2 linked regions of the Homo sapiens genome follow. The protein of the gene in region 2 interacts with the protein of the main gene of each other region in a pairwise test. Each region holds a gene or a part of one and is shown on either strand. Other genes may lie near its edges. The genes, in order: STK3 and RASSF6.

What was found.
Region 1: the proteins of RASSF6 (region 2) and STK3 interact in binary tests that used the Homo sapiens proteins (3 or more experiments, as listed by UniProt).

What each region holds. Positions count from the first base shown.
Region 1 is NC_000008.11:98,454,074-98,456,694, forward strand, and holds the end of STK3 (serine/threonine-protein kinase 3), read right to left. Parts: exon of another isoform or gene 2,166-2,621; coding exon of another isoform or gene 2,112-2,165; exon of another isoform or gene 1,928-2,111; coding exon 1,769-1,927; 3' UTR 560-1,768; downstream 1-559. UniProt on the Homo sapiens protein: Stress-activated, pro-apoptotic kinase which, following caspase-cleavage, enters the nucleus and induces chromatin condensation followed by internucleosomal DNA fragmentation.
Region 2 is NC_000004.12:73,578,730-73,582,572, forward strand, and holds part of RASSF6 (ras association domain-containing protein 6), read right to left. Parts: intron 3,562-3,843; coding exon 3,460-3,561; intron 3,140-3,459; coding exon 3,088-3,139; intron 1-3,087.

The sequences.
Region 1 (2,621 bases), on a different chromosome or scaffold from region 2:
GTAAGGGCTCAACAGGGTAGAGACAAATGACACTTTGAGGCATTACCTAGGGTACAAATACCATTTTTAAAAAGGAATGGAAGCTTTCCAGAGACAATATACCTTCTGTGACAGACATTAGTGAACTCATCAGCTTTTCCTGTTCTCTCCCCTCCAGCTACGTGGTGATGCTACTCTTCCTGACTCCCTCGAAGTTAGGAGTGTCCATGTGACTAATTCTGAATACTGGGTTGTGGCCAACCAGACATGTATCACTACTGGCTGGAGCTAGTATGAAACTCTCCAGCTCCCCTTCTCCTTATTGTGGTGACCACAGATATCTCAGATGGTTGAGGCCCTGTCAGCAGGTCCCTGGGTGTGGATGATAGGAGCAGGGCGCCCTGCCAAACTGGGGTGGGCCTGGAGCAAGAGTGAGGAATAACCTGTATTATGTGAAGCCGCTGAAGGGTGAGGGTTGTCAGCACTGCATAATCTAGCCTGTCCTAACTAATATACGTCCCTTGCTTGGAAAATGCAGAGTCCAGGTCATGAGTTTTAACAAAGATACAGAAACGAAATATGCTGGGTGGCACAGTGAAATTTATTTGTCTTTATGATTTACACATAATAATTAAACACACAAAAGAAAAAACACTGTCAAGATGGCCATATGTAGCTTAGGAAATGACTGGTCCCAATGCAATCATATAAATGTTCATTCAGCGTAAAAATGAGTTTCTTTTTAATGGTTTTAATCTTTTTTTTTTCAGTCCCCAAGGCTTGTACCACTCAGTACAAATGTTTTTGCTACTGGGTTATCATCAGGAACATGATGTTTACCAATTCCCAGGAAATGAATAAAATCAACAGAAACATCCTGTGACAACAGAGCACATTTTCATAGAAATGAAATTGATGAGCTTATTACAGTTTGAATCAGTTCAGCTATTAGATCTACACATAAAACATGAAACAATATTAACAAATTACATTTGTATTAAGTTTTTATTTAAAAATATTTATCACACTTTTTTGTGCAAGGGTTCCATTGATTTCTTTGGTTTTAAACACGATAGATCTATTTTACCTAAATATATATAGTTCTATTTGTACCAAACATCAAAAATCAAAAAAACAAAATTTCAAAGGGTAAAAATGGAATTATTGCTTCAATATAAAAAAGGCCTAGCCCATTTGAGAACTACTGCCATTATTGCTTTCCTATTTGAAAAACTATCCTGGAAATCAAGGAATGTACCCCATAGCTCCCTGCAGAAAGTATAAATTGGTTGCACATTATCATCATATTAATATGACCCTACCTTCACCAAAGCTATCCTGATCTTGTCCTTAAAAAATGAAACAAAGCAAAATAGCATAAATAAATAAGTTTACCTAAGGGGATACAATAAATAGCCTAGTATACTAGATAGGAATAAAGAATATTGTAACATAAAGCCCTTCAGTGCTGTACAATGCAACAATAGCTTTGGATTTTCAAGGTTTAGAGACCTTGAAAATCCATTTCATAACAGTTTTATTACTGGTATGCAGCTGACAGAACAAGAGAATACACTTCTTTTGTTCTCCTCATCTTAGAGTGAATGCACAGCAGATACAACTGTCAATTCTGCCTTTTGGGAATTTACCTGGGCATGTACCATTGTCACTTTTTGACCTCTGCCTAATTGTAGGGCAAAATCTTAGGATTAAAAATATCCAAATATTCCTTCAATTCCTAGTGGTTTCTTGGTCTCCAGAATAGTTAAAAACAGAGAGGAAATTAGACTCAAAAGTTTTGCTGCCTTCTTTTCTTTGCATCCATCGCATCCAGAATGGGCTGTCTTTTCGCAGTGTATCTCTGACGAAGTTCTTCTATCTCCCGTTCCATCATGGGGTCCAGTGCTTTTAACCGCATCTGTAGTTCTTCTAAACTTAGATTTTTCAACTAGATACAGAAAGAAAGATACCAATACAATGAAATTATCCACATTATCCACAATCAATACAATGAAATTAGACTTTAATGTCTAATGAGTTTTAACATAAATATTTCAGCAAATTCTTTACATCATCTTTGAAGTATAGTTCAACAATTAAAACAGGAATTTCTTCCTTGAAGAACTCAGAGGTCATATCTTGCAAGAACCTCCAGTAATCTGCAATGAAGCAATCCGATCCTCTGCCTTTAATAAAGGGCAAATGAGAAAAATACGCTGATGGAATTTGTAAAAAGGTACAAAGACAAATCCACCACTGCCAACAAACAGATTTTCAGAATATGTTCCAGGTATATTCACTCTAACTTTTTACATCTTTGCCAGCTACTGAGTGCTACAATAATCATGAACACTTGCAGAGATCACTCAAGAATGTGACAAGACTGAATAAAGGTTAAATTAACCATTCTATCCTCCATTTTACTAAATGCTTAATAAAGAAGATGACTGTGGTAGGGGGCGGGAAGTAAGGCTGAATAGGCCTGGTGGGGCCCCAAAAGCAGGAAGCCATGATCAATTCTGGAGTAGGACAGTTATGTAAGAGTAATCCAGATTTGGTTTTCTTTTCTTCTTCTTCTTCTTCTTATTTTTTTTGACACAAGGTCTCAAACTTCTGGGCTCAAGAGATCCTCCTGCCTTGAC
Region 2 (3,843 bases):
TCCTGAGTAGCTGGGATTACAGGTGTGCGCCACCACACCTGGCTAATTTTTTTGGTATTTTTAGTAAAGACGGGGTTTCACCATAGTGGTCAGGCTGGTCTCAAACTCATGACCTCAAATGATCCGCCCACCTCGGCCTGCCAAAGTGCTGGGATTACAGGCATGAGCCACCGTGCCTGACACCCCCCTTCTCATCCTCTCATCTGCATTTCCCCAATCCCCCACCAGGTAATCTATCTCAATGGTTTTGTATTTATCACTCCATACCTTTCTCCCTAGTCATAAGACCATATATACCACATACTTAAATGGGAGCTTGTAACTGTTTAAAAAATGGGATCTTTTATATATACCTTTAGGCATCTTGCATTTCTCACTTAAAATATATTATGGAACTCCCTCCATTCTATTGGCATAAATCTACTCATTCCATTCAATGGCAGCCTAACAATCACTTATTTAATCATTTCCCTAGGATGAGTAACTTTGTCTTTAGCTTTTTGTCCTTATAAACAGTGTTACACATAAATCTGTAGGCACTAGTGCTTATATTTTTGTGGGATAGATTCTCACAAATGGAATGGTCAAGTTAAAGGACATATATACTGTAAATTTTAATAAATATTGCAAGAATAAATTCCAATAAGAAGAAAGTCATATTTTCACTAGTGTTGCATAAAAATATCTTTTTACCCTGATGCATGCCAGCCATGGGTAGAATCATTTTAAAGCATTTTGCCAATCTGAGAAGTGCAAGATAATATTACGGTGTGGCTTGAGCTTGCATTTCCTTAGCTACTTGCATTTCACTGAATTTAAGACTTTTCTAAAACTATTTAACTGGTTATTATGGTTTTTCCTTTCAATTGTATTTTCATGCTTTTTTCTATTTTTATCGGATTGTCTGTTGTTTTGTTACCATTTTGTAGGAAATTATTGGTATTATAGTTATTAATCTTTGGAGTACATTGACAATATTCTTTGTAATCTACTATTTGTATCTTTTAAATTGTTACACAGTCCAGTATTGCTACCATTTATTTTATATCTTTTGGTTTTCTTTCTTTCCTAAACAACTAGAATATGAATATATATGTGTCCTTAGAATTTTCCAAAAAATAGATCTTTATTTTATTTTATTTTATTTTTATTATTATTATACTTTAAGTTTTAGGGTACATGTGCACAATGTGCAGGTTAGTTACATATCTATACATGTGCCATGCTGGTGTGCTGCACCCACTAACTCGTCATCTAGCATTAGGTGTATCTCCTAATGCTATCCCTCCCCCCTCCCCCGACCCCACAACAGTCCCCAGAGTGTGATGTTCCCCTTCCTGTGTCCATGTGTTCTCATTGTTCAATTCCCACCTATGAGTGAGAATATGCGGTGTTTGGTTTTTTGTTCTTGCGATAGTTTACTAAGAATGATGATTTCCAATTTCATCCATGTCCCTACAAAGGACATGAACTCATCATTTTTTATGGATGCATAGTATTCCATGGTGTATATGTGCCACATTTTCTTAATCCAGTCTATCATTGTTGGACATTTGGGTTGCTTCCAAGTCTTTGCTATTGTGAATAATGCCGCAATAAACATACGTGTGCATGTGTCTTTATAGCAGCATGATTTATAGTCCTTTGGGTATATACCCAGTAATGGGATGGCTGGGTCAAATGGTATTTCTAGTTCTAGATCCCTGAGGAATCGCCACACTGACTTCCACAATGGTTGAACTAGTTTACAGTCCCACAAACAGTGTAAAAGTGTTCCTATTTCTCCACATCCTCTCCAGTACCTGTTGTTTCCTGACTTTTTAATGATTGCCATTCTAACTGGTGTGAGATGGTATCTCATTGTGGTTTTGATTTGCATTTCTCTGATGGCCAGTGATGGTGAGCATTTTTTCATGTGTTTTTTGGCTGCATAAATGTCTTCTTTTGAGAAGTGTCTATTCATGTCCTTTGCCCACTTTTTGATGGGGTTGTTTGTTTTTTTCTTGTAAATTTGTTTGAGTTCATTGTAGATTCTGGATATTAGCTCTTTGTCAGATGAGTAGGTTGCGAAAATTTCCTCCCATTTTGTAGGTTGCCTGTTCACTCTGATGGTAGTTTCTTTTGCTGTGCAGAAGCTCTTTAGTTTAATGAGATCCCATTTGTCAATTTTGGCTTTTGTTGCCATTGCTTTTGGTGTTTTAGACATGAAGTCCTTGCCCATGCCTATGTCCTGAATGGTAATGCCTAGGTTTTCTTCTAGGGTTTTTATGGTTTTAGGTCTAACGTTTAAGTCTTTAATTATAGATCTTTAAGCTTTCAATTATAAGAACTTTAATTTTATATATGTTTAGAGATACAGCTTTCATTTTCTTAAGGTGTTCTGGCATCAAAATGTATTATTTTATTCTAATAAATTTCTGGCTTGAACATTCTGACACTTAAATTATAGCATGAGTTTTTTCTACAAATTGATATATAAAATTTTTCATTTGTGAAGTTTTAAAAACTTTCATTTCAGTATCACTTTAAGTTTTCTCTATTCTCTCTATTATGCTCCTAGCATCCCACTTACAGCGCCTTCCCAATGTTCTGCTTCTAACCTTTCACCCCTCACCACGAAGTTCTGAATATGCATCTCTACTGAGGAAGAGATAGCACTCCCGCAATGTGTCAGACCCTGTGCTAAAAAAGAGGCAATATCAATGTCAGAGAGAACAGGTATGCAATCATGACTCCTCTAAGAGCAACACTCAGAAAGGAAAGCCAAAAAGAAAGTTACAGAGGTGAGCAAAGACAAAAGTGCCGAAACAGTTCCAGAGGGTTTTGATCTCCATTTAGATAATTTAATGTCTGGCCAACAAGCAAACTCTTTCATATAATCAACCCTTCAGGGATACCTTATTCTTAAGTTATCTTTCTTTAAAATTGTGGACTATAGATAATGTTCTAAAGACCACTCCTTCCTTTTCTCCTACCCATTCCTCCCCTTTCTCCACAGAATGAGGCAAACTGTTCTTCTGCCTTCCCCCTGGGCAGCAAACTGTAGCACTCTAGAGTCAGGTAAAAAGTGTGATCAAGCTTTCTTACCTCCTGTTGCAAAAATAATGTGAAGAGCAAAATCCTGGGGACTATTTTCAATCTGTCAAGGGAAAAAATGAACAAATATAAATTCTTTGTTGTTATATGATGTTTTCTAACCTGACCAGACCCAAATCATGTCTGTTTTCTCTCTTCCATTTTTCACTTTTAGACATAAAATCTTCTCTGCTCTTATGGGAATTATATAATTTTTCAAGGGATAGTTACTAAAAGGTGTTATACAAAGGAAAGAATCTTTCAGTGCTCAACATCCAATTTAGATTTACACCTTTATAGATCTGTTTCAGAAGAGTGGATTTGTGTGTTTATAGTTGAATTATATATAATATATTTATAGCTCAGTTAAGTGATAAAGGTTACCTTAAATTTTTGGAGAAGTTGCTTTATTACTTCTTCAGTTCTCATGTTACTGTTTACTCTGACCTTAGTTTCTGATTCAAAGGCTGGAATGAAAATTGATGTCTAGAAAAAGAATTGTCACATAAGTCTTTAAAATTATATTATATTAAGGGTATTCAATATCTTGAACATAATCTTCTTATAGGGCAAAAAAAATCCAAGGTCATTAATTTAAAAAATTTGTTTTGTTTTTGTTTGTTTTTCTTTGTTGTTTTTGAATATTATGTGTTCTTTTAAGCAGCTTTATATTGTTTCTAGAGTAAATTAGGTAAAACACCATTTGAGGATGCTTATAACATTTTCACTGGACAATTACACCCCTCTTTAGTGCAGTTTAAGATTTCA